Linked DNA regions of Homo sapiens. The protein of the gene in region 3 interacts with the protein of the main gene of each other region in a pairwise test. Each region holds a gene or a part of one and is shown on either strand. Other genes may lie near its edges.

Region 1 (4,344 bases), on a different chromosome or scaffold from region 3:
TGACAGGGTGGTGGTAAAGAGAGCAACAGTGAGCCAAAACCTAAAATTCTTGAGCAATGAGAAGGAGTAAAAGAGGGTAATGTAGGGACTTGGGAGGCTGATGTCAACAGCTTCAAAACAATGAGTGTTCAGGAGGAGGAAAGGAGAATAGTTTGGAAGTGGCAATGAGGAACAAGGAGGCATCCTACGATTAATGTTTTATTATTCATATTTTGACAAAGATAGCATATTATATTCCAGGACATGGTAGTTACCATGTGGGGAAACCTATCAAAGCATTTTTAATGACTGCTTAGAATAACTGTAGAAAGTACTTTCTCAATGATTTTTGTATGCAAGAAAAAAAATACCTGAAAGTAACCAAAAGTTTCAGACTGGAAAATATGCCAGGAAGATTTTCTTCTCTCATTCTCAGGTGAGGTTATAATCCAGTTTTAGCAAATGTTTGACAATTTAAAATACTTTTGAAAACTGGAGATTTAAAAAATGTAAACAATTGTAGGCACAGCAAAATCGTAGTTTTCCCTTCTGATATTATACATTTGGCATCTCTCTACAGTTATATTAACATAAATAAGGCAGCTAAAACGTTCAAAAATAGTTTTACAACATTCAATTTTAAAATTTCATTCAAGCTGTAATCTTTTGTTTCCTGCTGCCACCTAACATTTGAAGTTTTGATTCAGGGTAATGTCCAAGGTTTCTTAAACATACCATAATAAGTATTACTATTCCTTAACATTTATCCCAGGGGAAGAGATAAGGGAAAGGGGTAGCTGGGCATGATATTTACAGTGTACAAATAATGATCCATTGCCAGAAATGAAAACTCACCTTTCCACCAGCATTTGCTCAGCCTCAATAGTGCAATGCAACTTGGTGCTGATAAAAATAAACCATTAAAACCAAACCCTATCATGCAAGGAGTGAGTTTGAAGATATGTACACAAACTCAAAAATCTGTAAACTTTAGGACATTTTTATTTTTAACTGTATTTTCTACTTTTCATCCAAACATTTGTCATCATGGACTCAGAAGAATCCAAGATTTTGATCTAGATTTAAAATAACTCAAACATTACCCAGGGATTTTTGTTTAAAAATGCTTTTATGGGGATTTTTATTTTGGTATATTCTGGCACTTCCTGGAATGGCAGGTCTAGAAGAATAAAGTCCAAAGCACAGGGTTATGATCTCACACTGTTTAATGCTAAGCAAACTGTTGAATATTCTAGTTATCAATGGAAGAATTCCCAGAATAATGGTGTAGAAATAAAAACAACCTAGAAAATGTTTGGTAGGAATATACAAATTGTCAGTTTTGAACTTGCAAATTCTCAAGAGGTTTTCTTCTTTGCTGGGACTCCTGAAAAGTGATCAATTTTACACCCAATTTATTTAAGATCCATGAAAGGACAGCTTACTTTAGGGTTCCTGATATATAGTGACCAAGGAGATATAGTGGCATTTATGAGAAATATTAGCAGGTAAATTAAATCAAATTTAGACTTTTGGATTTTAGATTTATGTTACAACTATGTAGTCTCAGGGGAGGTCAGTTTTTGGTTGGTTGGTTATGTTTTGCTTGATTTGGTTAGATTTAAATTTTGAAGAATGAACTAAAAGGTAACTAACAAGTTAGAGACTGTTGAAATGATCAGAACATGGTACCAGTGGTGATTCTGGAATATAAAGAGCATAGTAGCATCATTCAGAATTGTTATCAGCATGCTGTGGATTTTCTCATGTTTTCCTGCAGTAGGTTAAAATTAAAAGTTTTATCAATAACTATTTTTTTTCTTAAAAATAATGTAGCACATCTTACATCTTAAAGCAATCAGCACAAATGCAAGTGATGCCTGTTCAAGCAGACTTTCAAAGACAGCACACACTGTTAACACAAAGAGCTCTTCCACGTTTCAAGAATACAGTGACGGGAACTGGTACACATAGTAGTAGGGAAAGCATTTTTTTAAAAGCTTCGTGGAATGTGAGACTTTAGCCCCTTCCTTTCCTGGCAGTGGATAAAACCAAAATGGTTCTGGCTGGAATTTCACATCTTTCTAATAATCTACTGGACAGGAGGGACCAGAGACACCAATTACCAATGAGTCACAAGAACAGACAAAAATTGTTAGTAGGTTTTGACAACCAGGAACTAAGGTGTTTTTAAAAAACATGTACTTGATGCAAAGTATATTAGGAGTGCACCCTAGAAAACAATGTCAAAGTGTTAGAAAAATGGAGCCCCTGTCCAGGTGACCTTGTGAGATTTCACCCATAACTTAATATACCCTGTTTAATAAAAATAATAGTTCTAGGTCTTCTTGAAGGATTGTTTAGAAGTCTCCAAGAAAAATAATGAGATCTATCTAAAATAGAGCTGTTCAATTTTATGTGGAACTTAGTGAAGGCTGTCTTCATTTGCATTGTGTGTTATGACAGTGGTCTGGCTGGAACTGGCAGGGGGAAGAGCCTCATTATTTGAAGGAACTTCACTGGTCATCCATTCCTACCACCACTGGATGCAGGAATCCATGCTACAGTATCTTTGACTGGCACCCAGGAATGATGGTCACCTGCCAGACCCCAGACCCAGACTATGGTGTGGGCAGGCTCAGTAGATTTTACTGGATGATTATTAATTTAGAGCAGTAAGAACTGGCAGATCTAGTGAAACTTACTCTGAGGGGAGGGCTCAGTTTCTCCAGTTTCTCTTTGTAGGAAAATAAAAATAAAATGAGCCAATTTCTAGAGACAAAATCACCTATAAAAAGATCAGAACTGAAGATTTTTTTTGTTGAGATGCTATAAAAATGGATGAAAAGCAACCGTTCCTCCCCTACCCCCAAAAAGAATTAAGGCAATTCAGAAAGTTTGGATGAGCCACAAGGACACCATTCTGACGTATTCTGCATGTTCTAGGCCTCCTTATGTCAGGGCTGGGGTCTGTCTTGCTGGAGGAAAATTTATTTTTGAAGATAAAAGCTTCAGTGAATTCTTTAAATATCTGTCTTTTAAAGAGCACAGATTTCTGGGGGGCCCATTTAAATTTGGATTTGCCTTGTACTCAGTGTAAAATATTAGTACAAAAATATAAAAGGCATGGCTTGATGTTTAACGTGTGTTTTATTGTTGTTGGCACCAGAAAAGCTCATGTTCTATGTTATGTCACTGTACATACTGTAAACAAGACTGCATTAATATTGTTTTCTTATGATTTGTTTCAATGACTCTAGATTTTAAAAAATACATTCACAAACTACCTTATGTTTAAACACAATGATTCCCTTTTATTTCTTAACTGTACCCAAAATCCCACAATAAAAAAATCATTTAAAGCTGTGTGTTTCAAACTTATCACTTAGAAATAAAAACAAAACAAAACATAAAAACAAAGATCAGTTTGCAACATAATTTAAAGAAGCTTCTGGTTTAAAATACCACAGCAGCAATATAAAGAGCTGGTGGCAATCACATTCGGGAGTGAAATCGAAATCAATATATTTTGTCCACATCAGCATCCAATTACAGTAGTTGTTAAATTCAATCCAAAAAGTTATTGCTGAATTTGTGGCATGGAATTTGAGAAGATAGTATTGTTCAGCAGCACAACCACAGCAGTAAAAATGAGAACAGGAGGATTTCATTGCTTTTGAGAGCTAAAGGGACCATGAGGAGGATATCTTGCTGATTGCCTGAAGATAATCCTCAGTTACATTCCTGCATATTACCTGCTTTAAATAAATGCAAATGACAACCACCTTTTCAGGAGGGGCATAATAATGTAATCCAGAAACTAGAATGTTTCCCCTTCTCTTCCCCATCTTGCCCAAACCACTAGATTGAAATGGCTCCATTTTCCTAATGTGTATTTCGTTCTCATTAATAGTACATCAGCTGCTTGTGTATTTAGGCAAAGTCAGTAAGATCGTAGTTTTTTTTGTTGTTGTTGTTCCATTTACAGTAATTATTTTCTCCAGAAACAAGCCACATTAGTTTTTGTCATTGGATTCCCCCCACTTCCAATTTTTTAAGAAGAAAAATTTGGTCAACTACTGTTTCGTTTTAAAAATGTTAAATGCACCTGAGATTGCCGGTTGAGCTCTCTATATGTCTCCTGGAGATAACACTGCTGTGATGAACAGTGAAACAAAAACAAACAAAACGAGGTAGGTTAAAACAGGAAGCGCAACACAGATATTGTTTGCAACACCTCGATACCACAGGCGGCCATGCTTGTAGCTTTGGAAAAAAAAAATCCCAGTCGCATAAAAGTTCAAATCATTTGAGTAAGAGTTTATAAGGACACAAGTCAACCTGAACTAAATACATACATACTTC
Region 2 (4,344 bases), on a different chromosome or scaffold from region 3:
GAAAAACTACCTATCGGGTATTATGCCCGCTACCTGGGTGATGAAATAACCTGTACACCAAACCCCCACGACATGCAATCTACTTATATAACAAACCTGCACGACGTATCCCCTGCTGAACCTAAAAGTTGGAACAAAAAGAAAGCCCCCCTTTTCACAACCCCAGATTATGTCCTACAAATTAATCATCTTAATCCTTTTTCTTTCTGTTACTCAGACTGGATAATTTCTATTAATCTATCTGCAGATTCACAGCTCCTTTCTTTTCATTTTCCAATATGCTTTTAAGCCTACGCACATGGTGATGTTTTCATTTCAGATAACTGTTCTTTTCAGCTCTGAATTTCAATTTGGTTCATGTGTGTGTGTGTGCGCGCGTGTGTGTGTGCGTGTATTTCATTTCTCTGCTGAGATTCCCTATGGTGATGATACATGGAATTTACTGGTCTTATCCTGTTCCCCACCGTCCTGTCCTGAAGCAGCTGGCTTGCCAGACTGGTGGAGTGGCCTGTTGAAGACTCAGTTACAGCACCAGCTAGGTGGCAATACCTTGTGGGGCTGGGACAAGGTTCTCCCAGGCTGTATAAGCTCTGAATCAGCATCCAGCATACAGTGCAGTTTCTTCCATAGCCAGAATTCATGGGTCCAGGAACCAAGAGTTGGAAATGGGAATGGCGCCGCTCACTGTAACCTCTAGTGATCCACTAGTGGGGAGTCTGGATTAAATTATGTTCCTTTAAAGGGTGTTAAATTTTGTTCTGATAGGCAGATAAATTATGGTGGATCTTCTGGTCCTGTCAGACTTGATTTTATCATTTCTTTCGGCAATTCTGTTTTGTTGTTTGTCCTTAGTCCTAGCTAAGGTCCTGGCTCAAACTTAGGCATGGTTCTCACTCATGAGGCATTGTTTTCTGGAGTCTCAGATGAATGCTGAGGTGTTCTGCAGGGTCTCTACACACTGGGCCAGAATTCTTTTTTTTTTTTTTTTGAGACAGAATCTCACTCCATCGCCCAGGCTGGAGTCCAGTGGCACAATCTCGGCTCACTATAGCCTCTGCCTTCCAGGTTCAAGCCATTCTCCTGCCTCAGCCTCCTGAGTAGCTGGGATTACAGGTGTGTGCCACCACACCCGGCTAATTTTTGTATTTTTAGTAGAGACAGGGTTTCACCATGTTGGCCAGGCTGGTCTCGAACTCCCGACCTCAAGTGATCTGCCTGCCTCAGCCTCCCAAAGTGTTGGGATTACAGGCGTGAGCCACCACACCTAGCCTGAATTCTTATTAGCAACACTGTGTGAAGTCTCGGCTCTCAGCCAAGGATCCCCAGGGGATCCGTGTGTAGACTTCGGCCCAGCCCACTTTCCTCCAGTGCCTGTCCTACAAAGGCCAGCTGCTTCATCATTCCTCAACTTTAATCTCTTCCTGTGCAGCTCCATGAGACCTCCGCATGCTGCTTGCCTCCCACCATTCTGTACAGTGAGCTAGAAAGTAACCCATGCACAAAACTGAGGCACATCTTATGTCTTTCCGTTACCAAGGATCAGGGTCCTGCATTGCCTGTACCTTAATGCCTGAGTGCAGTTGCCTCATACATATTTTTTTTTTCCAGCTTTATCCATGTTAACAGTGGGAAGACTAGACCAGTACCAGTTACTCCATTTGGGCCAAAACCAAACTCAAATTCTTTATTTTTTAAATTTATTTATTTATTTATTTTTAACACGGAGTTTCACTCTTGTTGCCCAGACTGGAGTGCAGTGGCGCAATCTCGGCTCACCGCACCCTCCGTCTCCCAGGTTCAAGCGATTCTCCTGCCTCAGCCTCCTTAGTAGCTGGGATTACAGGCATGTGCCACCACGCCCGGCTAATTTTGTATTTTTAGTAGAGACAGTGTTTCTCCACGTTGGTCAGCCTTGTCTCGAACTCCTGACCTCAGGTGATCTGCCCGCCTCGGCCTCCCAAAGTGCTGGGATTACAGGCATGAGCCACCATGCCTGGCCGATTTTTTTAATTTTTTGAGACTTTATTAGCTGGCGATTCTCACGTACTTCACTTAAAGAGATGATGATTGAAATTGTTTCTCAGGAAGGCAGAAACTATGGCATCTGAAAGGATTTTTTGGAAAATTTGGGGAAGGGTTTCAGTTTGTGTTTGGTATTTTCCTTCTCAACTCCCTCCTACTTGTCTTGTGCAACATCCAGTAGATCCCAGTAACACATTCCTAGTTGATAATATTTTAGATAATCTAATAAAGTAAATGGTTACATTCTGAATTTTTAAATGCCTTGTTGAAAGAAAGTTTTTTGAGGAAGGAGGTTAATGAGCATGGAGGTGATGGGGGGTCAGTGTTAACAGCCAGGACCACCGCCCACCCCGGCTGCTGCTGTTCTGCCACCCTGTCTCCACCAGCTCCCTAAGCACTCAGTGTTTTCACAATGGCAGGAGCAACAGGCGGTGGGGGTGGTTTGGTGCAGGGACAACTGTCCTCTTACGGGATCATTTGTTAACTAGGTATTTGCGAGGTCAAACTTGCTTTTATTTTAGGAGGCACACAAGAGTTTTATAAATTGGAAATCCCAGCTGCCTAGGGCTGAGTCAGGGAGGTACTTCCTGGAAAAACCGAAAATGATTCGTTCTTTTGTCTAAAACAATCAGGTCGGGCACGGTGGCTCACAGCTGTAATCCCAGCACTTTGGGAGGCTGAGGCAGGTGGATCACCTGAGCTCAGGAGTTCAAGACCAGCCTGACCAACATGGTGAAACCCCATCTCTACTAAAAATATAAAAATTAGCCAGGCGTGGTGGCGTGCATCCGTAGTCCCAGCTACTTGGGAGGCTGAGGCAGGAAAATCACTTGAACCTGGGAGGCAGAGGCTGCAGTGAGCCAAGATTGTGCCACTGCACTCCAGCCTGGGCGACAAAGTAAGACTCTGTCTCAATAAATAAATAAATAAATAAATAAAACAATCAACAGGCAACTCTATTCAATAAGTACAGTCATTACAAAAACCATACTCCATATTTTGGATATAAAGGGTGAAATACTTGAGGAATGGTGCGGAAGATACACCTATGCCACAGCAGGAGGCCTGGACAAAAGCACAGGGGACAGCATCAGGTCTGAAATCTCTCTGCTCCTCACATAAGCTATGACAGACCTCCACCTTACTGTCACCAATGGTTCTTTGAAAAGCTGCTTAACATAGTCCATTTATATTCATCACTAAGCCTTTGTAGGCCACACTCCAATGAAGACCCCTAAGGCTACGACATTAGTGATCACAACAGCCTTACCAACCTCCACTAATTCACTCAGCATTCACAAAATCAAGATTACATTGCTGTGTCACACGTGGTGCTCTGCTAGGCACTTTGGGAACTGTTAATATTAACACGTGCTCCCTACATGTAAGGAGTGTATAGACCGTAAGTTTGACAGGCTTTTGCTTTAAAACTGTATTTTGCAGATGTGTCCATTTGGCATACTTTTCTAACAGCCAGAGATGACTGGCTATTACAGTTCCTTACAACCTGAAGATTAAGGGGAAACAAGCGAAAGCCACAGTATGGTTGCTGAGAGGATTAGGTAGATTAATCCGTGGAAAGCACTGAGAACATGCTGTTACAGAGAAGCATTCAGATATTTGCTACTTATGTTTCTATTAAAATAATACAGGCAATTCTTATTTCCCTTTGCTCAGAAGAAAAATATGTAGATGTTTCATGTTTAATTTGGTTAATTGAATACATAGAATTTCTCCATGAAATATGTTCTCGGGTAAAACCTTTGATGATCTTTCATTATATACCACCACCAAAAATTACACTAAAATTGTGAAAGAACCTTGAATGGCCACTCTAAGTGAACTAAATGGAAGGGTATTTGATTGATTTACCCATTAAATTTCATATATATATATATATATTTATTTATTTATTTATTTTTTAAAATTTGAGACAGGGTCTCACTGTGTCACCAAGCTGCAGTACAGTGGCTCAGTCATGGCTCACTGCAGCCTTGACCTCCCCAGGTTTAGGTGATCCTCGTGCCTTAGCCTCCCAGAATAGTTGGGACTACAGGCACGCACCACTAAGCTGGGGTAATTTTTGTACTTTTAGTAGAGATGGGGTTTTACCAGGTTGCTGAGGCGGGTCTTGAACTCCTGGGCTCAAGCAATCCACCCACCTCAGCCTCCCAAAGTGCTGGGATTACAGGCATGAGCCACCATGCCTGGCCCTAAATTTCATATATATTTAAGGACACTTATGAAATTATTTGGGATCATAAAGGAAACGTATTTTTACTAAGGATGCATAATAACAGTTCCTTAATAAACTACCTTGAT
Region 3 (4,000 bases):
GGCACTGAACTCAGCTTGATCAGATCATTTGTCCATCTGTTTTTTTCTCCACTGTCTCTTAGAGCAGAATAGCCTTGAATGGCAAGCCATGCTAGCTGAAAAAGGTTTTTACCCACAACCTGCCCCTTCAACTAACTGCTTTAGAGTACGTTTGCTATTTTTAGAATTCCTCTTATTGGAACCCAGCTTCTAATGTGGAAAATTTAAGTATAGTTGGCTCCTTTTATTTGTGGGTTCTGTATCCTCTGATTCAACCAACTGCAGGTTCAAAATACTAAAAATAAAACCCCACAATAAAAAAATACAGTATTAGCAACTATTTACATAATGTTCACATTGTATTAGGTATCAAATAATCTGGAGATGATTTGAAGTACACAGGAGGATGTATGTAGACTATCTGCAAATAGCACATTGTTTTATAAGAGACTTAAGCATTCGCGGACTGTAATATCCAAGGGGGATCCTGGAACTAATCCCCCACACATGCCGAGGGATGACTGAAATTAGAAATGTTCAAGCATGTACAACTTTCTACCATGCCTGTTTGTGTTGGTATAAATCATGGAACATCAAATAATAAGACAAAATCCTCCAGGTGTAAGCATCAAATACTAGTCCTCTTGCTGTTTTAGTGAGTTGCCATGTTATTGAGGAGGACTCCAGATGAGAAATAACATTGCGATCTGTATTATCTCTGTGAGAGCCTCCCAGTCTGAATTTGGCTTGGACAACAGGGATACTGTTTAATTCGGCTGCAATGTGATTAAGATCTTTTGAGTTAATGATTTCTTCATCTTTTTAGTGGGCCATGGATTTGTGAGAACACATCTTTGGAAACAAGTAACACTAACTGTAATATAGTAAATACTGATTAATCATGAAATACCAATATAGCTTTTAAAAAACACTATGTAGATGTAAAGTTGATACAAAGACACATGGAAAACTTTCAACAGTATTAACTCTAAGATTAGGACAACTTTCTCTGAATCTCTCACTCCTACATATTTGACATAAGTAATGAGATGCTATGTACCAAGAACTATGGCTCAGTTAAAAATGAAGAAGGTTCAAATACAGTGTGGTGAAAATGGTGAAGTCATTTTTATTTCAGTACTTGACAAAATACCCCATAAAATTCAAAACTTCTACCATTATACAAAAATAGGTCTCTACAAGTGATATTATCTGTCTTCATCACCAGTAGAATATATTAGGCAAAACATGTAACTTCAGTAGCCTTATAAGAAAAGTGCAGGACACCTCGAGCTACACATTCAGCAGTATTGTAATGCGTAAAAGTTTAATCTTTTCACCCATTTGATAAATACACAAGGTTTATAATTTAATGTTTTAAATTAGCATTCCACAAATATACAGGTAATTCAATAATTATTGTGCATGAATACATACACAATGCTTATATATACAAATTCCAGTTTGTTTTCATGTGCTGGCAAGGGATTTGTATACAATCATAAGCTGTGTTCATATTGGTCCCATTGAATATTCACAATACAAAAGCACAAAAGAACCATTGATTTACAAAAGGAAATCTATTTAAAATCACTTCAATTAATGATGTTTCAAAGGATTATCTTCTCATGCCAGCATGAAATTGAGTAGTTGAACCTATGAGAGAAAAACAGGAAATTCAACTGATTTCAAATTACATTGCTACCTGTATCAGACCCACCAGAGTTCACACAAAGGAAATTATTATTATTCTCCATTTTTTTAAAGCCCTTTTTTTCCTTAAAATGTCCTCTTCATACTTAAACTGAGTCTCTCCCCACTACCCCCAAGGTGGAGTGTTACTCTGTTGCCCAGGCTGGAATTCAGTGGTGTGATCTTGGCTCACTGCAACCCCCGCCTCCTGGGTTCAAGTGATTCTCCTGCCTCAGCCTCCTGAGTAGCTGGGACTATCCACACATGCCACCATGTCCAGCAAATTTTTGTATTTTTAGTGGAGACGGGGTTTCACCATGTTGGCCAGGCTAGTCTCGAACTGGTTGGTCTTGAACTCCTGACCTAGTGATCCGCCTGCCTCGGCCGCCCAAAGTGCTGGGATTACAGGCATGAGCCACCGCGCCCAGCCCATATACTTAAGCTGACTTTTAAGAGATTTTGAATATATATGTAAAAATCACCATGACTGGCTCTATGGCAAGGTAGGTGAGACTAATATTTAGAGTTTTTTTAAAGTGCTCTCAAAGTTGGATGTTCTATACCTCATACATTTTTGAAAAATCTTTTGGTCTTCAAAATCTGGGTCTTGTGAAATTTGGATGCTCAAAACAAAACAAGCCTAGGCAAACCAACAAACTCAGCTATGATAATAAAAGTTTCCTATTACTACAAGATGCTTGGGTGTAAACAAATGATTTCTTGAAGGAAGAGATAAACTACTCAATGATTCAAAGTCTCTGAATCAGGAGTGAACTGAAGTGAGATAGGGAAAAGAGGTTTTCCTTCCATGAACAGGGAATCCACCTTTATTTTAAAGTATGACTTGTTTTTTGTTTTTGAACAAAGAAAAAATAATCCTTACAAAGTATTTTAAATGGGATAGTTTTTTTCGATGATACATAAAAGCACAATATAGTAGCAGGGATAATGGTTACATTAAGTGCTTAAAGTAAGTGCTTCCTCCTTAACTCCACCCGATTTGCATGCCTTACCACTTTCTTTTTTTTTTTTTTTTCTTTGAGACAGGGTCTCGCTCTGCTGCCCAGGCTGGAGTGCTGCGGCACGGCCTTACCACTTTCTGCCATGCGCTACTTAGGAATACGTTCTCCAGTTAGGCTCTGTAGACTCAGAGTACCTTGCACACTGGTGCTCATTGTGCATTTTGTGTCATCAGTCCGCTGAATGAACATAGTAGGAAATCATTTTTGGGAGGAGTGGGATCTGGGGTGATAAATCATATTTTCACTTAAATTATTTAAAGTCAGTTTCTCTGCTGGTTACAAGAGTTTAAGCTTTGGCTAACTTAATAATTAGCTCATGCACTAAACTGGAAGCTTTGATTATCCTAATGAGTGTGAAAGAATTTCAAAGAAAGGGGAGCTGTGGGTCTCGCACTGTGGTGCTGCCAAGATGTGGTTAAACTCAGAGCACCTGACTGTATAGTTCCAAGTCGTCTTTGCAGTGCCTCTAGCCGAGTGATATAATCTGTTAGGGCTCTGTCAGGATCGTAATTCTGAAGCTGAGAACATGCTAAAGAACCAGGATTGAAATCAGCTGGAGTGCCTGGGTACCTAAAGGATTAAAAATATGTACATGAATCAAGTTATCCAGAAATATGCATATAAGTTACCAACCTGCCTCCACTCCCTTCCCCAAAAAGGTGGGTCACTTGTACACACATAATGTATCTCCTCCAAGCTTCAGCTTTGGAGCTTGGGATGAGAAAGAGACAACTCTCCAATGAATTCAAAGATGCTACTAAGTCAACATAAGAATGTCCAATACAATGCTTGTGGCAGAGGTCTCAATAAATTGGGTATGTATAAATGTATCTTGTCATGAAGACTGTTAAGCTTTTCATAATGATCAGAGTATCAATTTTAGTCAATACTTTTCCCAATATCTAACCATAGCATACACTAAATAACACTTGGTCAGCTTGTTTGCTATACCCTTGGAAATCAGTTACAAATTTAAACACTGGTTTTTACATTTTTACATTAAGCCTTAGGTTATGTATATTTTTTTTCTTTTTTTTTTTTTTTGGAGACCAAATCTTGCTTTGTTGCCCAGGCTAGAGTGCAGTGGCGTGACCTCGGCTCACTGCAACCTCCACCTCCTGAGTTCAAGCGATTCTCCTGCCTCAGCCTCCTGAGTAGCTGGGATTACAGGCACCCACCACCATGCCTGGCTAATTTTTTTGTATTTTTTTTTGAGACAGAGTCTCGCTCCGTTGCCCAGGCCAGAGTGCAGTGGCACAATCTCAGCTCACTGCCAGCTCCGCCTCCCGGGTTCACACCATTCTCCT
Region 4 (4,344 bases), on a different chromosome or scaffold from region 3:
TGAAAAAAAATTTTTTTTAACCTCTTTGTCATTATAAAGACAGACTGGCTTAGAGATCAAGACTGAAGTTGGGGCTTACACTGCCTTCTTCTAAATATACTTATGCCTAATTAATAGTCTGGTTACTTGGTTATTTGTTGGCAAATTCTTTTTGTGAATGGGCCTTAGCTTAATGGCAAGCAGAAATACTTATCAGGCATCCTGTGTGCCAGGTACTTTGCTTAATGTTTAGAGGATTTAACAATGAACAAGATACAGTCCTTTCCCTCAACACGCTCATAGTCTGCTTCTTACATTCTTGACCCACTTTGAATCTATAGGGGCATAAATAACCTGCTGTTACCTCAACAGCAGGCAGACAGCTGGTATGATATTTATTAGTAGAAGTTAGGGAATGGGTTGGGACATGGGGAAGGTTGGGCTGATTCCAGAGATAAAAACTACTATTGTAATTACTAGAGGAATAGGAAAATCATTAGAAGTATTATCAGTGGATAAGCACAAGGATCTTCCCCTTGCAGAGGATTATAGGAAGGAAGTTCTAGGATAGATTACAAGGAAAGATGTATTAGTGATATGCCATAATTATGGTATTTAACATTGTGGTTAAATCTGAAAAGTGCTCTTTAAAAAAATGTCATTCAGATCTTAAGGGCAGATTTTAATGTGTGATACAGATCAGTTCCTATTACAGTGAAGGACAAGAGACTGTTCAATTTCTTCTTTTTAGCCAGAATGGTAATGGTTTTGTCACAGCAATTTAACAAGGCTTCCATTTTGTAAGTTTTTCCAGCAGTATAAACATTTTAAGGACAATAGCTAGGTTCTTGGGATACTTGTCTGGAAACGAATATTTTGGTTAAAACATGTTTTGTTGATTTTTAAAAATAACAGCTTTATTGAGATATGTGTCTTATACCATATAATTCACCATTTAAAGTGTACTATTCAATGGTTTTTGGTTTATTCACAGAGTAGTATGTTGATGTGTTTGTGGTCAACCTGCCTTGCTCCCAAAAGAATTAAAGGAAACTATGATATCTCATTGCTTCTGATTTTGAAAATATTTGCTAGTCTTGACTTGCCAGTGGATATCTATATCATACATCATCCATAGGTGCTTTTGGTAACTAGAAGCAATTCTACATTTGTGGAGTAGGGTTTATCAATTAGACCTAGAAGGATTATCGGGAACATTATAATGAATGGCATGCTATTCCTCCTGTCATCATGTTCCCAGACACCATGGATAGCACCATGGTATCCATGCTATAGGATGGTCAAGATTACTTGAAGCTGGGTTTTTTTTTTTTTAATTTTTTATTTTTTTTGAGACAGGGTCTCACTGTGTCACCCAGGCTGGAGTGCAGTGAAATGAACATGGCTCACTGTAGCCTTTAACTCCTGGGCTCAAGCTGTCCTCCCACCTCAGCCTCGTGAGTAGCTGGGACCACAGCTATGCACCCAGCTAATTTTTAAATTTCTTCTAGAGATAGTCTCAGTATGTTGCCCAGGCTGGTCTTAAACTCCTGGACTCAAGTGATCCTCCTGCTTCCACCTCCCATAGTGTGGGATTACAGGCATGAGCCACCACACCCAGCCTATTTTATTTATTTATTTATTTATTTATTTATTTATTTATTTAGGTTCAGGGTCTCACTCTGTTGTCCAGGCTGAGGTGTAGTGGTGTGAACATGGCTCATTGCAGTATCGACCTCCCAGGTGCAAGCCATCCTCCCACCTCACCTTCCTGGGTAGCTGAATCTACAGGCATGTGCTACCAAACCCAGCTAATTTTTGTACTTTTTACAGAGACAGGATCTTGCTGTGTTGCCCAGGCTGATCTCTAACTCCTCAGGTCAAATGATTCTCCTGCCTCGGCCACTCAAAGTGTTGAGATTACAGACATGAGCCACCATGCCTGGCTTATTTTTAATTTTAAAAAAGTTTTAATTTTTTTGTTTACTTTTGTGTTTTGTTTTGTTTTTACCTGAAGCTGTTTGATTAGGAGGTTCCCATGTGTGCTGAGATGCTGAGTATTGTAACAGTGCAAAGACAATCTAAAATTCCACATTTGCAAAGCATGTTAACTTGCCTAGATGAAACAGCTCTTAAGGTCAGTAGATTGTATATGTGTAACTTTCCATTCCCAACATATCCTCTCATATATACAGGAGCCACATGGCCTAGATTTTTTCTGGGATAGATCCACTTTTATATTCTATGGCACTGTCTCTTCAAACTACTGATCTTGGAAATTCTAATATTTTCATGTCGAGACTGTATTTCTCAGACTGCTTCCAACATCTTAAAGAGGAACAGAAATCTCATCTCTGATCATGTGCCCTGACTTGGAGTTTGGCAAGGATGTTAGCTGTCCTCAAGTCTCCTGTCATGCCCTTTCCATTTGAATTTCCTCCTGGTGTTCCTAGGCCTGTTAACGACTTGCTGTTCTCCTAGTTCCGCAGCTTGGAAACCTCCGTATCTTTTTTCTTGTCTTTCACATTCGACTTCTTCTATATCAATTCTAATTTCAGTTGACATCCAGCTGATAGCTCAGATTTGGAACTCCCACTAGTACTCTTTTTCTCTGTCTTAATGTCCCAAACATGTTTCTGTCTTATTACGGTTACTGTATTTGTGTATATGTTTACCACTCCCACGATACTCTAAGCCCCCTGACATGCTGTTTTGTTTACCTCCTGTAGAGCCTAGCCCAGTGTTACACAGAATAGCTGCTCATTGAATATTTGTTGAATGAATACTTAAGCAGGGGAGGGATGGAATGAAAATAATGGTTTGGCATGATCAGTCCACTTGTAGGGACGAAGCAGGGTATAAAGATGTGGTTAAACAAGTAAACACATTTTCAGGCATGTTGAACAGGATGAGTAATAGAACTGGGAACCAGGGAGACCAGGAAACTTTCAGGAAACAAAATGTGAAGTGGTGAAGGTCTGGTGGACTGAGGCAGGGGCAGAAGGTGTGGGAAAGAAGAGGATAAATCCGAGAGACAGGTCTCTCCGAGATGGATTACATATAGGATGGGAAGGAGCAGGAGTAGTATGAAATAATGCCAGTAGCTCCAGACTTGGAAACTGAAAATTAATTCCTGTTTCATCACAAATTTTGACTGCCTCTGTGGAACTTGAATGCTACTAAGAAATACTTCTTTACATAGCTTGACAAAGCAAAATGCCCATTATTTCCTCTTGAAATTTGTTACTGTTTCTTGAAGTGTGAAAGTTTTGTGTATTGTCCAGAAAAGATTACAGAGAGATTCTGATTCTAATGAGAATTGCTGCTGCCACATATTTTAGATCTTCCTGGTACTTTTAGCTTTTTTTTTTTTTTTTTAAATAATGAAAGAGAACTGGAGGAAGCTTTATGAATGGGCTTCCAGGGATTTAACTGTAACCTCAGGGGAGGGGTGACAGGGAATGCTAACTCGTGTATGGGAGAATGTGGGAGAGGAGAGATGATCCGCCTTACTTCTTACCTCAGAAGGTAATTTAGTTTCTCTGTTTTTCATTTTATGATGAATTTTGCCTCCATTGGGAGAATTCAGGAGTACGTGGTCCACTAGAGGATAGACTTGGATGTATTTGTCTCCACTTCAGGCAATTCCCAGTGAAGTATGAGGTACTGTTGGAAGTCTAAACTTCTGATCTGTGGAGTAAGGTCTGGCCATAGACAAAATATTATGTGAGCAATTCCACTTCTTCCACCTCACCTGAAGGCATGTCCTCCATCCTACAGTGGTCTTCCTAGACTTATTCTATTTATCTTCCTAGGGAGTTTGTCCTTTTCTCCCCAGCACCACCCCACTCCCAATCTTTCATCAACTTTATTGAGGTATAATATACTTGAAAAGTCCCTCATTTTAAGTGTACAGTTTGATGAGTTTTGACACATATATTCTGTCATGTAACCACCGCCACAAACAAGATGCAGAACATTTCCATCACCCCAAAAGTTCCCTTGTGCTTTGTCTCTTATCTTCCCCAACATCTTCAGGGAGTTTACTGGAGTTATGCTTGCTCATTAGGGCAGAAGGAAGTTTTTTCTTTTTGGTTTTTCCGAAATGAATGCTATGGTTCCACCTTAGCCCAACCAATAGAGATACTTATTACAAAGGCCTGGCATTGGAGATCATGGCTGTGGAGTTTCATTTTCAGTGGGAGGCGGAAGTGGATATAAAAGGAGTTTAGATGATTTTTGTTTAATCTTTCCTTCACACACTGACCACTTTGCCTTTATTAATGATGTCTGCCTTTGATGCCTTCTGAAATGCCCTTTGGTTAATTTTGCCCTTTAACGGTTCCTCTTCCCCATCTGTCTTGG
Region 5 (4,344 bases), on a different chromosome or scaffold from region 3:
ATGTTCGTGAAAGGTCACCACGTTCTGCTTCTCATCATGGGCATGTGTCATATCCCCGAGGCTGAGGCAAGAAGCGAGAAGGAAAGTAAGTGGCAGTGAGTTCCCACCACATGACAACTCAATCTCAACTCCTCCTGACCTGCAGACCCTGCCCACTCCGATTCTGCCCTACCTCAGGACCTGTACACGCCTTCCATGGTTCCTTGAAGTGAACCATCTGCTCATACCACAGTGACTTCCTCGCCTGGGTTATCAATTCCTAGGCTAGAGGAAGGTGTGGCCCGCATATCAGTGCTGACCTGGGGTTTGGGAACCCACAGCATCCTGGGTAGGGAGGATCCCTGGATATAGAGGGCAGGGAGTAGAAAGAGCATGGTTAGGCAGGCGCAGAGGCTCACGCCTGTAGTCACAACACTTTGGGAGGCGGAGGCAGATGGATCACGAGGTCAGGAGATTGAGACCATTCTGGCTGACATGGCGAAACCCTGTCTCTACTAAAAATACAAGAAAAAAAATTACCCGGTCGTGGTGGCGGGTGCTTGTAGCCCCAGCTACTGGGGAGGCTGAGGCAGGAGAATGGCGTGAACACGGGAGGCGGAGCTTGCAGTGAGCCGAGATCATGCCACTGCACTCCAGCCTGGGGGAACAAAAGGAGACTCCCCCACCCACAAAAAAAAACATGGGAAATTTCATCATTCAGCCTCAATGCTGTACCCTAGAAAATTATGAGAAGGGAATGATTTGGGGAACAACTGATAAGATGGGATACCAGTACCATAACAGAATAGCACATCTGCAAGGATGTGGGAGATGAGCCAAAGGTTCACTTACGGAGTTACTCGTCATCTTCCTGAGGGTCGCTGATCTCTTCATAAATCACCAGTTGCTTTCTCTCACGCACTCTGTGGGTCCAGGCATGTTTCCCCCTTTTGGGTCCTATGATGGAGAAGAGTTGGAAGATGAGGGTTGGGTAGATTGGAGAGGGTTGGGTTGATTGGAGAGTGTTAGGCTCTGTTTTCTCCAAAAAAGGAGATGCCTCCCCACCACCAAGTGCCCATGGGTCTTCTTTATCCAGTTTTTCACATTCTCTGGCTTAGAGAGGCTGAGACCTTAGACCCACACCAATACAGGCCAAATGCAAATTAAAGTTTTAGCTTCTGGCTCCTTCCGTTGTCAGGTTTAGATTCCCAACCTCTTCACTTACGGGAACATTCACCCTTACCTCCTTTCATTCAGCACGTATTTATTAAGGCCACACAGGCGTACCTTGTTTTATTGCACCTCATTTTCATACTGCTTCACAGATGTTGCAATTTTTTTTTTGGAAATTCTCACCAATTTTACACTTTTCCATTATTATTATATCTGTTATGGTGATTTGTGATCAGTGAGCTTTGATATTATTACTGCAATTGTTTTTATTGTTTTTTAGTCTTTTAAAATAATTTCTGTTTTTTATTTTTGTGGGTACACAGTAGGTGTATATACTTATGGGATACATGAGACGTTTTGATACAGGCATGCAAATGCGTAAAAATCACATCATGGAAAATAAGGGATCTATCCCCTCAAACATTTATCCTTGGTTACAATCAATCCATTTACACTCTTTTAGTTTTCATACTGCACAATTAAGTTATTATTGACTATAATCACCCTGTTGTATGTAATTATTCTGGGGGTAACAGGAACTGCACTCATAGAAGTTGACAAACTTAATCGACAAATATTGTGTGTGTTCTGACTGCTCCACCGATGAGCTCTTCCCTGCCTCTCTTCCTTTTCTTGGGCATCTGTATTTCCTGAGACATATCAACACCGAAATTAGGAAGATTAACAACCCTACAATGGCCGCTAAGTGTTGAAATGAAAGGAAGAGTCGCATGTCTCTCACTTTAAATCAGAAGCTAGAAATGGCTAAGCTTAGTGAGGAAGCATGCTGAAAGCCAAGACAGGCTGAAAGCTAAGCCTCTTGCACCAAACAGCCAAGCTGTGAATGCAAAGGAAAAGTTCTTGAAGGAAGTAATAGTATATAATGCAAAGGAAAAGTTCTTGAAGAAAATAATAATACTAATACTCCAGTGAACACAAGAATAAGAAAGCAAAACTGCCTTACTGCTTAAATGAGAAAGTGGTCAGGATAGAAGACGAAACCAGCCACAACATTCCCTTAAGCCAAAGTCTAATTCAGGGCAAGACCCAAACTCTCTTCAAGTCCATGAATTCTGAGAGAGGTGAAGAAGCTGCAGGAGAAACGTGTGAAGCTAGCAGAGGTTGGTTCATGAGGTTTAAGGAAAGAAGCCGTCTCCATAACATAAAAGTGCAAGGTGAAGCAGCAAACCCTGATGGAGAAGCTGCAGCAAGTTATCCGGAAGATCTAGCTAAGATCACTGATGAAGGTGGCTACACTAAACAACAGATTTTCAATGTAGATAAAATAGCCTTCTATTGGAAGGAGATGCCATCTAGGACTTTCATAGCTAGAGAGCATTGACTTCAACTTTGAAAGAAGTTCTACTGTGGGTAAAATGCTATCCAAAAGCATCACATACTACAGAGAAAGCATTCATGAACGGAAGAGCTAATCGATGTGGCAAATTTCATTGTTGTCTTCTTTTATGAAACTGCCACAGCCACTCCACCCTTCAGCAACCACCACCTTGATCAGCCAGCAGCCATCAACACCCAGGCAGGATCCTCCACCAGCAAAAAGAGTGTGACTCACTGAAGTCGCAGAAGATTATTAGCATTTTATACAATGAATTATTTTAAAATTAAGATATATACATTTTGAGACACAATGCTAGTGCAAACTTAGTAGACTTCAGTATATTGTAAACATAATGTTTTTATGCACTGCCAAACCAAGAAAAAAATGTGTGTGACTCACTTTATCGCAGTGGTCTGGAACTGAACATGCAATATCTCTGAAGTACACCTATATCGGGTAACAGGCATTGAGCTGAGTAAGATATGATCCCAGGTAATCACAGATGGAATTGCTTCAGCACCTTTCATGTCATCAGGCCTTCTAGACTTAATTTAATGCCTCCAAACAATTTATGAACTGAGATTCTTTATTTCCAACTTATAAACTAGGAAACTGGAGCTAAGAAAATTTGGAAGACTTGCCCCAAGTCACGTGGTTTTTTTATATGAATGACAACTCCAGTCTGTGTCTCTGGAAGTCATGTGTAACATCTCATCTGGAGCTGGGCGAGCTCCTCAGCCCAGCCTGGACCCAGGCTTGTCTGGGGTCCATGCCACACACCCAGTCCACACACCTGAACTTAGCGAGAAAAGCCAGAGTGGTTGTTCCCAAATTCTTTTCTCTTACCAGATGTCTTGTTAACCTTCTCAGAGGTATTTAGTTTTCCTGAGGGGCGCAGCTGTTTCCCATTGTTCTGTGGGCCAGATGCTTCTGGCACTCCCTTCGAATCATTTCCTTCCTCTGCTGGCTTCTCGGGCGTGATCTTTATAATGTGAAGGTCACAGATAAACAGTATCAGTGACATTTCTTTAGTGCTTTAGAGCTTACAAAGAATCTTCACATGCATTACCTTAATCAATGTTCTCAACAATGCTAGGAGAGTTACACTTGCCTAAATTAGGAGAAACCTGGGAGGGGAGGTTAGATGGGAAAGGAATGGCCTAACTGAATATGGTTTCCAGGGATAGAATTCTTCTTATCTTCACACTGTTTTAAGACTGACATTCTTGCAAACAGCAAATATCTCCATGTAATTGAGAGTTTGGTATACAGAAGATTTGGAGCATAGCATTCTAAGAATTCACAAGGTCTACAAAGGGAAGAGTTTCCGTAAAATACAAGGGATCCCATATAAGCTCGTAGACAGCTGCTGGGAGAGTAAATGTAAAGACATACAGAGGGGACAAAACACTGCTGAACAAGATGGTGTGGGGAGATGTATACAGGGAAGGGAGAGGGAAAGAAATGGTTTGCTGAAATTAATCCAGGCAGCAAAGAAAGCAGTACCAGATCTGGCATACCAGCCTACCGAGGCACCAACATTGAATGTGGAATTCAGTGAGGTGGTACCCATAACAATTCTGGTTGCATTGGGATGTATCACTGACCAACACTCTTAAGCTACTTTTTTTTTTTTTTGGATGGAGTCTCGTTCTTTTGCCAGGCTGGAGTGCAGTGGCAGGATCTCGGCTCACTGCAACATCCAACTCCCATGTTTAAGCGATTCTCCTTCCTTAGCCTCCAGAGTATCTGGGACTACAGGCAGGCACTACCACGCCCCGCTAAGTTTTGTATTTTTAGTAGAGACGAGGTTTCACCATGGTGGGCAGGATGATCTCGATCGCTTGACCTCA
Region 6 (4,344 bases), on a different chromosome or scaffold from region 3:
ACAAGACAGCTGCCTGGGAGCCTTGGGCCAAGGACCGTGAGCAGCTTCCAGCAGCCAGAAGAGACAAGGAAGCGGATTCTCCCCGCAGAGACACCAGAAGGACCACAGCCTTGATTTTGCCCCATAAGATGATCTCAGACTTCTGGCCCCCGGAACTGTAAGGTGAGGAACTTGTGCTGTTTTAAGCCACGGAAGTGTGGCAACGTTACAGCAACATCAAGTGGAAACCAACACAGATCCTGGCCCAGGAAGTGGGGTGCTGCTGGAATGCCTAACAATGTGGAGATGGCTTTGGAGTTGGGCAGTGGTGAGGCGGGAAGAATTTTGAGGAGCGTGACAGAAAACCCCTAGACTGGGCCGGGCACAGTGGCTCACGCCTGTAATCCCAGCACTTTGAGAGGCCGAGGTGGGCAGATCATAAGGTCAGGAGTTCAAGACCAGCCTGGCCAACATGGCGAAACCCTGCCGCTACTAAAAAAAAAAAAAAAAAGAAAAAAAAATGTCAGCTGGGCTTGGTGGCAGACACCTGCAGTCTCAGCTACTCGGGAGGCTGACACAGGAGAATCGCTTGAACCCCAGAGGCTGAGGTTGCAGTGAGCCAGGATCATGCCACTGTACTCCAGCCTGGGCGACAGAGCAAGACTCTGTCCACAACTCACCCACCCCCTCCAAAAGAAAAACCCTAGCCTGTCTTGAGCACCCTGTTGGCAGAATTCAGATGCTAAGGCCCTCGGTGAGGACTCAGAGGAGGTGAGGAGCAGGGCAGAGAAAACACGTCATCTTCTAGAACAACCTAAACTGCCACGAACATGCTGTTGGTAGGAATAGGGATGTTAAAAAATGACAGCGGGGGGGACCATGGGCCACACAGGAGCGCTCCCTTCAAACCTCACGTGACCCGCCGGGCTGGACTGTGAAACTGCCTGGGACTAGTGACGCCCTGTTTCCTTCTTCTTTTTCCCATTTTGAAAGGGAATGCCTGTCCCACAATTGTATTTTGGGAGCAGATAACTTGCTTTCCAGTTTCACTGGTCCACAGATGGAGAGGAATTTTGCCTCAGGATGGACCACGCAATCCCCCATGCCTGATTGGATGGGATTCTGGACTTTGGAGGGACACTGTGGGGGACCCAGGCTTCTGCAGATGTTGGTGAGGAGCAATGCACCTTACAAATGAGACAATGAGAATCTCCGGCGCCCACGTCCCAACCCCCAGAGCCTGCAAATCCACTACCTTACATGGCAAAAAGAAGAATTGGCAAACACGATTAAATTCAGGATTTTGAGGTGGGAACATCCTGGACCTGGGATCCTGGGGGCCCAAAGCAAGTACAAGAACCACGTAAGTGACAGAGCGAGGCAGGAGGTTCGAGAGAGGCGCGAGATGGAAGTGGAGGCGGGGCGGGGATGAGGCTGCCTGCTGAGCACCTTGAAACAAGCAACGTGGGCATCCACCAGAATCTGGGAGAGGCAAAGGAACAGACTCCTCCTGAGCCTTTGGAAGGATGGCGACCTTGCTGACACTGGGGACAGCCTCGTGAGACACATTTCAGATTTCTGGCCTGGAAACCCGGCATGATACAGATGTACTGTTTCCAGCGTGAGGCTGTGGAAAGCCATAGCAGCAGCCACAGAAACACTGACCCCGTTCTTGGGGCCAGGACACCACCCCGTCCCGGGGAGAACGCAGTCCCAACTCCTCGGGAACACCAGGGCTGCCACCTCCCGGAGGACACCCCTTCCCCAGCCAGCCTGTCAGGCCACAGCTACTGCCTCCAACTCCTGATCTTGGCCCGGGGCCTGGAGGCCAAGCAGGGATACAGGGCTCCTTCTGGGTCTCCAACTCAAGACGGTGCCAACTCTAGGCTCTGAACTCCTTGCGCCTTGCAGAACCACCACTTCTCTCTCCCCAGTGAGGCAAGATCTAAGAGGGAATGTGGGAAGGCCCAGCAGACACACAGTCCTGCCACAGGGAGCAAGCAGGGAGGCACAGGCTCTCATGCCAGGTGCCCACAGGACACCCTGCAAATGGCACCACTCAGCTCCCAGCCGGCCCCACAGGAGCGGCCAGTGTGACCGCCAGCCGGCAGACGAGGTAAGCACGGAAGGGACGCGAGAATAAGAACACTGTCCGTGGCAGTCCGGGCATGGAGGTCACAGAGCCACACGTCCCAAGGAGCACAGCGCCGTGCACCCTGCCCTGACTCTGCTGTGAAGCCAAAACAACCAGCAGCATCAGGAAAAATCAGACATGCTGCTTGGCCGAGCAGGAGCCCGCAGGTCCGTGGGCCGCGGGTACTCACTCCAGCCAGGGATTTCTGGATGTTCTCTCTGGCTCTCGCAATGTCACGGAGGATCACGCTGGCGCCGTTCTCCTGCAGACAGTGCAGAAAGAACCAGTCTTTTTTTTATTATTAAAAAAGAATTTAATTAAAAAACAAACCAAAAAACCCCATGAACCCTCACATAGAGACAGCAAGAAAGTACTGCACAGAACGAGAGCTTGGCGGGCCAGAAAAGCGGGAGATGCCTGAGGCTGTGACGACAGGCAAAGGCGCCCATGTCTGCGGGGGAAGGAGTGCCAGGCCTGGCCCCACACCAAGTGCACAGGCGCCGGCAGGAGGGCCCTGAGCAGACCCGGCCCGGGGGCCCGGCCAAGGCCGCCTGCCCCGAGACCCCACTCCCAGCACCCACAGCAGAGCCACTGGGCCAGGGTGCCTCTGCCTTCCTGGCCTGGCTGAATCCGCTTTGTGTGCCCCGGCCACTCCTGTCGGGCAGCAGAGCCGCCCAGCCGCCCCACGTGCAGCTCTCACCTGGCGGGAGGCACCTGCCACAGGCCCGTTCATCTGCTCGTAGAATCTCCTTTCTGCGTCGTCATATTTGAACTTGTCGAACCAGATCTTCTCATGTGCTAGGAAGTTTGTAGCCATTTTTCTGCTGGGAGGGGAAAGAGGCAAAGTCAGCATGGCTGGGAAGTGGGCCTCGGCATCAGGACAGCCCAGAAGCACCAAGGTGCAGTGGGGCTGACACCCGCTTCAGACACCAGCGGTTCTCCACAAAGCGACACCAAGCCCGTAAGCCCTCACCCCACATGGCATCCCCAGGCCTGTCTTCCAGACGAGGAGTTCTCAAAGTGTGGTCCGAGAACCTCTGAGGGTCCCCAGGCCCTTCCCTTTCACTCACACGAAGCTGGGTTTATGTCAAACAGCTGAAGTGCGGAGGCAGGTATGAGGGCCCAGCTGCCTCCCACTAAGCCAGACACCCGAGAGATTTGCAAAAACCTCAAGCAAGGCCATTCTGCTCACTGAATTTTTTGGTTATGGGAAAAGTATTTCTCATAAAAAAAAAAGATGTTAGTAATATGTAACAAGTTTCTTCAACAAATAAGTACACTTAGCATTTCTGAGTTTTTTTGTTATTTTTTTTTTGTGTGAGATGGAGTCTCACTCTTGTCGCCCAGGCTGGAATCAGCGGCGCGATCTCGGCTCACCGCAACGTCCGCCTCCTGGGTTCAAGCGATTTTCCTGCCTCAGCCTCCCGAGTAACTGGGACTACCAGTGCACACCACTGTGCCTGGCTAATTTTTTGTATTTTTAGTAGACAAGGTTTCACCATGTTGGCCAGGCTGGTCTTGAACTCCTGATCTCAGGTGATCCACCCGCCTCGGCCTCCCAAAGTGCTGGGATTACAGGCGTGAGCCACCGTGCCCGGCCCATTTCTCAGTTTTAATTGCTAATGTGGTAAAAATCAATAGATACAATGAAAGCTCTTTGGGGTCCTGAGAGCAAGAAGGTTGAGAATTGCTGCCCTAGACAGGGACCATGGCCCGCAGGCAAATCCAGCCTGTGGTTTTACTGGCACAAAGCCCCACCTCGTGCCACTCCCACTGGCCAGCAGCAGAGGAGCTGGGCAGATGACTCTGTGGCCGGGGCCCAGACCCTCTGGTTCTTTATGGAGTTTGCCGCCCCCCACCCTGGACTGGCCAAGACCCTCTTACTGTCCAACCAAGCACAACAGAACTGTCCCCCTCCTGCCCTGCCGCCAGTCTGTGTGTGGACTCCGGACCATCGCTGGACCTTGCCAAGTGTCCTCTCGGTAACAAAGGGCTGGAGTCTGTGAGCGTCCTCTGCGTCCCTGACCCAGGACACTCTCTCGGCAAGGAGGGACCAGGCCACCGTGAACACCAGGGCAGGTGGAAGGGCAGGAGGTAGCATTCCCCTATGGGGTCCTGCCCTCAGGTTATCTTGTTAACCAGCAAATCCAGACCCCTAGGGGTCCAAGGTTGGAACCACTTCCTTGGGGGCCTCAGCAGCTGCTTGGGACCTTCAGAGTCCTTCCCTGACT
Region 7 (3,891 bases), on a different chromosome or scaffold from region 3:
ACACATACCTTTGTGGGACAAGGGGATCTCCGACAGGTTCTCACTGCTGTCAGGGGAAGAGTTGATCCAGCTGCCCAGGCTGTCCTGAGCCGGGGCCTGTGGGGTGGAGTGGTTGGGAGGAGGAAACCCTTAAACACAGCAGGGACCCCATGCCCCACTCAGCAGAGACAGCGGGGCCTCAAGCTGGTGCCGTTTGGGAAAGGGTCCATCCCAACTGCTGCTGTCCACCCCCATGTCCCGCACCCGCTGCAGTGGAGCTCGTGGGGCCATCGGGTACTGAGAGCTCACCTCCTGCGTCACCAGGCTGCCGAGCTGGATGGGAGGTGGGGTGGGCACAGAGGAGCTTTTTGCCTGCCAGGCCCCAGTACCAGCCTTGAACACGTGGTGGCCTTCACTGAAGTTGGCAGAGGAAGATGAGTGGCTGTAGACCAGGCTATCTCACCGAGGTCCCACCCCCACCCCAGGGGAGAAGCTGTTGGTGTGAAAGGAGAGAGAACCCAGGAGTCCTGGCTCCAGACCTGGGCCACCTGCTCCCTCTCATTGCTGCTCTGTGTTCCCCATTTAGCCTTAGTCTGGGTTGGCCTCTCTGGGACAGGGCACAGGGTGGGGGCTGGGGCAGGTGGCCCCCATCTCACCTCTCTGTGCTGAGGGGAGGGAGGGCGCTGTTCTGCAGGTGCTGGGCATCAGAGCTCAATGTCTTCACACTCTCCAGGTCAGAATCTGGGGTCAGTGAGGTTCCTGCTGGGGTAATTTTGGGCAAGGAGCTGTCCTGGGGAGGAGGGAGCCAGGGTGGACAGTTAGAAGATTTGGTCCTGGACCAAATCAGCACAGAGTCACAAAGGCTTACAGGGTGACAAGGGCTGTAAGATGGCCTGGGAGCCCCAGAAGGGCAGTGGGCTTGTGTTTGGGTCCTCGGGGTTAAGCTGTGGTCTGCTAGGCTTCCCCAGTGGCACTGCCTGATGCTTGGTCTCCTGGGAGGGCAGCTGGAGCCATTTGTGATATCTCAGATGGCCAGCCCTGACCCTCAGACCCTGGGTGGGAGCAAGTGATGCCCAGGAGTGCCCAAGGAGGAGGGTCTTACTCAGGCTTGACAAGGCTTTGGGTGGGGTAAGAAGGAAAGGGAGTCAACTCCCTGGGGTGCCAGCCAGCCTGGTCCTGTCCCCTCCAGCTGCCTGAAGGCATTGCCTTGGTCATCAGCCCCTCCCTGGGCACATGTGCCCATGTTCAGGCCGCCCAGGCGCCCACCCACCTGCAGGGCCCTGGAGGCCACTTGGTCCATGATGGTGGCCTGCTCCAGGCTGCCCTCCTCCAGCTCCCGCAGGTACACTTCGTAGAGCTCTTCCAGGCGCTGCGGGACGGCCAGGTTGTAGTCTGCTGGGGAAGGGGCAGGGCTCAGTGAGTGCCAGCGGCCCCCCCGCGGGTGGCTCAGATGCGCGGGGGCGTGGGCCCTACCGTCGATGATCTGCCGCTGGCCCTGGATAATCTCGTCGCAGAGACTGCGGTGCTGCTCCAGGCGGCGCACGGCCTCGTGGCGGTGGCGGAGCGCACCGTCGCGGAGCAGCGCGTGCGACTGCATCTCGGTGTTCTCCACCTCGAGCTCGTGCACGCGGCACAGCAGGCTGAGCACCTCGCGCTGCTCCTCGGAGCCGATGCGCCGCGGCAGCGTCTCCTCCAGGCGCCGGCCCCGCGCGCGCAGCTCCCGGCAGCGCTGCTCCAGCGCCAGCTGCAGGAGGCGCAGGTCAGCATCTGGCAGCGGGGAGAGGGGTCCGATCCGCCTGCCCAGCTCGTCCTCGACCCTCCAGCGCCTGGACTCCAGGCATCTGTCTGGAGCTCCAGCCTGAGGCCAACCCTAAAAGCTGAATCTTGGGCCTTACAATCAGGGACTGCTCCAAGGTGGCCCCTCAGTGTCCACTTTCTTGCTATCCTGACCGCAAACCACCCCTGGAACCAGCTTGGGGGATAACTGCTCAACCCCAGCCCATGTGACCCCCTCAGGGCTCATGATACCCTAAAGCCCCTTTGGTCTGGGTATGTCCCAGAACAGAAGGCAAAGATCTGTTATTGGGAAAACCCTAATTATTATTATTATTTTTCTTTTTTGAGACAGGATCTCTCTCTGTCACCCAGGCTGGAGTGCGGTGGCGCTATCCCGGCTCCCTGCAACCTCTGCAGGGTTGCAAGTGATTCTTATTCCTCTGCCATCCGAGTAGCTGGGATTACAGGCGTGAGCCACCACACTAGGCTTTTTTTTTTTTTTTTTTGTATTTTTAGTAAAGACGGGATTTCGCCATGTTGGCCAGGCTGGTCTCGAACTCCTGGCCTCAAGTGATCTGCCTACCTCAACTTCCCAACGTGCTGAGATTACAGGTGTGAGTCACTGTGCCCAGCCTGAAAAACCCTAATTATAACATTAGTTACCATTTTTTGAGTCCTTGGTATGTGCCAGGCATTTATGTAATCTTCCCAGCAACCCCATGAGGGCTGCACCATGGACTGCTCCCATTTTACAGGTGGGGAATGTGACGCATAGAGAAGTTAAAGAGCTTAGCAAAGTCACACAGGATTTGTGGCCTGAGTTCCCAAGTCTCACGGCTACCCCCACCCTGGCCCCTCCGCCTTGCCTCTCAAACCTGCTCACCCTGTCCCCTAAACCCACTCTCCTTGTCCCCCCAAACCCTGGACACCTTCTGCTTGCGCAGTTGCTTCTGCTCGTCCACCAGGGCTGCAATGCTCTCCCGGGCTGCGGCCACCTCGGGTGGCTCCAGGATGTCTGGTTGGTCATCACCTGTGTCTGAGTCCTTCTCGCTGTCGTCCTTAGCGTAGCACTCCTTTCGCTGCTCCTCCCGCCATTTGAGGGCCCGGCGGGACTTCTCATGCTTCCAGCTGCCGCAGCCCCACCCAGAGAGACAGGGCATTCAGGCCATGGGGGCAGGGCACACTGTACAGCCACAGGTCGTGCTCCTCTGTCCCAGGCACAGGGGTGGGGCCTGGAGGGTCCTGGGAGGGGGGCTTACCCGGCGATGGTGAGCAGGTGTCGGGAGGTGTCAATCTGGACCTCCATGGCGCGGTTCTCCAGCTCCAGCAGGCGCCTCCGCACATCCATCTGCTCCTGGAAGGCGCTGGCGAGCTGCTCCCGAAGCTGTCCCATGCCAGCCTTCTCACCCTGCCCGCTGTGCAGCTGGACCTCAGCTGCCGATGGGTGAGGGTGGGCAAGGTAGAGGAGGCGGCAAGTTCAGCTAGCAAAGCCTGGGCCCACCTGGGCCCCTCCCCTCCTTTTCTTCCCAACTCAGTGCTCCCACTTCCTGTCCAACTGCTTCCTCCAGGAAGACCCCCTAGATTACTACATCCTCCCAGACCCCACTCCCACATTGAGTCTTCAAGCTGTTGCCCAAAAGCAATTCCCAGCTCCTTGGTATGAACTGGGCTCCTGCTAACCCTTACAGCACCTCTGTGCCAACTATAAAAAGGTGCCCCTAGAAACTACCGTCTGTGGCCAGGCACAGTAGCTTACACCTGTAATCCCAGCACTTTGGGAGGCCTAGGCAGGCAGATCACCTGAGGTCGGGAGTTCGAGACCAGCCTGGCCAACATGGTGAAACCTCGTCTCTACTAAAAATACAAAAATTAGCCAGGTGTGGTGGCGGGCACCTGTAATCCCAGCTACTTGGGAGGCTGAGGCAGAAGAATCGCTTGAACCCGGGAGGCAGAGGTTGCAGTAAGCCTAGATCATGCCACTGCACTCCAGCCTGGGCAACAGAGCAAGACTCTGTCTCAAAAAAAAAAAAAAATCTTTACTGTCTGCCTCTCTCTTTATATTAGTAAATTTTTTTTTAAAAAAAGCTTTACTGTCTGTTGGAAAACCATCATAGCAAATATGCAGGTCTACAAGGA

Evidence for each region.
Region 1: the proteins of AKAP9 (region 3) and TNIK interact in a two-hybrid assay, tested with the Homo sapiens proteins (2 studies listed by BioGRID and IntAct).
Region 2: the proteins of AKAP9 (region 3) and SAMD3 interact in binary tests that used the Homo sapiens proteins (3 or more experiments, as listed by UniProt).
Region 4: the proteins of AKAP9 (region 3) and MYO5A interact in a two-hybrid assay, tested with the Homo sapiens proteins (one large-scale study listed by BioGRID).
Region 5: the proteins of AKAP9 (region 3) and SSX5 interact in a two-hybrid assay, tested with the Homo sapiens proteins (one large-scale study listed by BioGRID).
Region 6: the proteins of AKAP9 (region 3) and EEF1D interact in binary tests that used the Homo sapiens proteins (3 or more experiments, as listed by UniProt).
Region 7: the proteins of AKAP9 (region 3) and KIF19 interact in a two-hybrid assay, tested with the Homo sapiens proteins (one large-scale study listed by BioGRID).

The regions. Positions count from the first base shown.
Region 1 is NC_000003.12:171,058,229-171,062,572, forward strand, and holds the end of TNIK (TRAF2 and NCK-interacting protein kinase), read right to left. Parts: 3' UTR 186-4,344; downstream 1-185. UniProt on the Homo sapiens protein: Serine/threonine kinase that acts as an essential activator of the Wnt signaling pathway. Recruited to promoters of Wnt target genes and required to activate their expression. May act by phosphorylating TCF4/TCF7L2.
Region 2 is NC_000006.12:130,149,742-130,154,085, forward strand, and holds part of SAMD3 (sterile alpha motif domain-containing protein 3), read right to left. Parts: intron 1-4,344.
Region 3 is NC_000007.14:92,107,757-92,111,756, reverse strand, and holds the end of AKAP9 (A-kinase anchor protein 9), read right to left. Parts: intron 3,264-4,000; coding exon 3,124-3,263; intron 1,636-3,123; coding exon 1,598-1,635; 3' UTR 1,084-1,597; downstream 1-1,083. UniProt on the Homo sapiens protein: Scaffolding protein that assembles several protein kinases and phosphatases on the centrosome and Golgi apparatus. Required to maintain the integrity of the Golgi apparatus. Required for microtubule nucleation at the cis-side of the Golgi apparatus.
Region 4 is NC_000015.10:52,521,855-52,526,198, reverse strand, and holds part of MYO5A (unconventional myosin-Va), read left to right. Parts: intron 1-1,996; exon of another isoform or gene 1,997-2,017; coding exon of another isoform or gene 2,018-2,116; intron 2,117-4,344. UniProt on the Homo sapiens protein: Processive actin-based motor that can move in large steps approximating the 36-nm pseudo-repeat of the actin filament. Can hydrolyze ATP in the presence of actin, which is essential for its function as a motor protein. Involved in melanosome transport.
Region 5 is NC_000023.11:48,186,796-48,191,139, forward strand, and holds part of SSX5 (protein SSX5), read right to left. Parts: intron 3,474-4,344; coding exon 3,338-3,473; intron 937-3,337; coding exon 836-936; 3' UTR 832-835; intron 342-831; exon of another isoform or gene 285-341; intron 62-284; 3' UTR 1-61. UniProt on the Homo sapiens protein: Could act as a modulator of transcription.
Region 6 is NC_000008.11:143,583,916-143,588,259, forward strand, and holds part of EEF1D (elongation factor 1-delta), read right to left. Parts: intron 2,938-4,344; coding exon 2,814-2,937; intron 2,376-2,813; coding exon 2,304-2,375; intron 1-2,303.
Region 7 is NC_000017.11:74,349,699-74,353,589, reverse strand, and holds part of KIF19 (kinesin-like protein KIF19), read right to left. Parts: intron 3,190-3,891; coding exon 3,015-3,189; intron 2,884-3,014; coding exon 2,685-2,883; intron 1,724-2,684; coding exon 1,453-1,723; intron 1,375-1,452; coding exon of another isoform or gene 1,372-1,374; coding exon 1,250-1,371; intron 770-1,249; coding exon 636-769; intron 395-635; coding exon 289-394; intron 97-288; coding exon 9-96; intron 1-8. UniProt on the Homo sapiens protein: Plus end-directed microtubule-dependent motor protein that regulates the length of motile cilia by mediating depolymerization of microtubules at ciliary tips.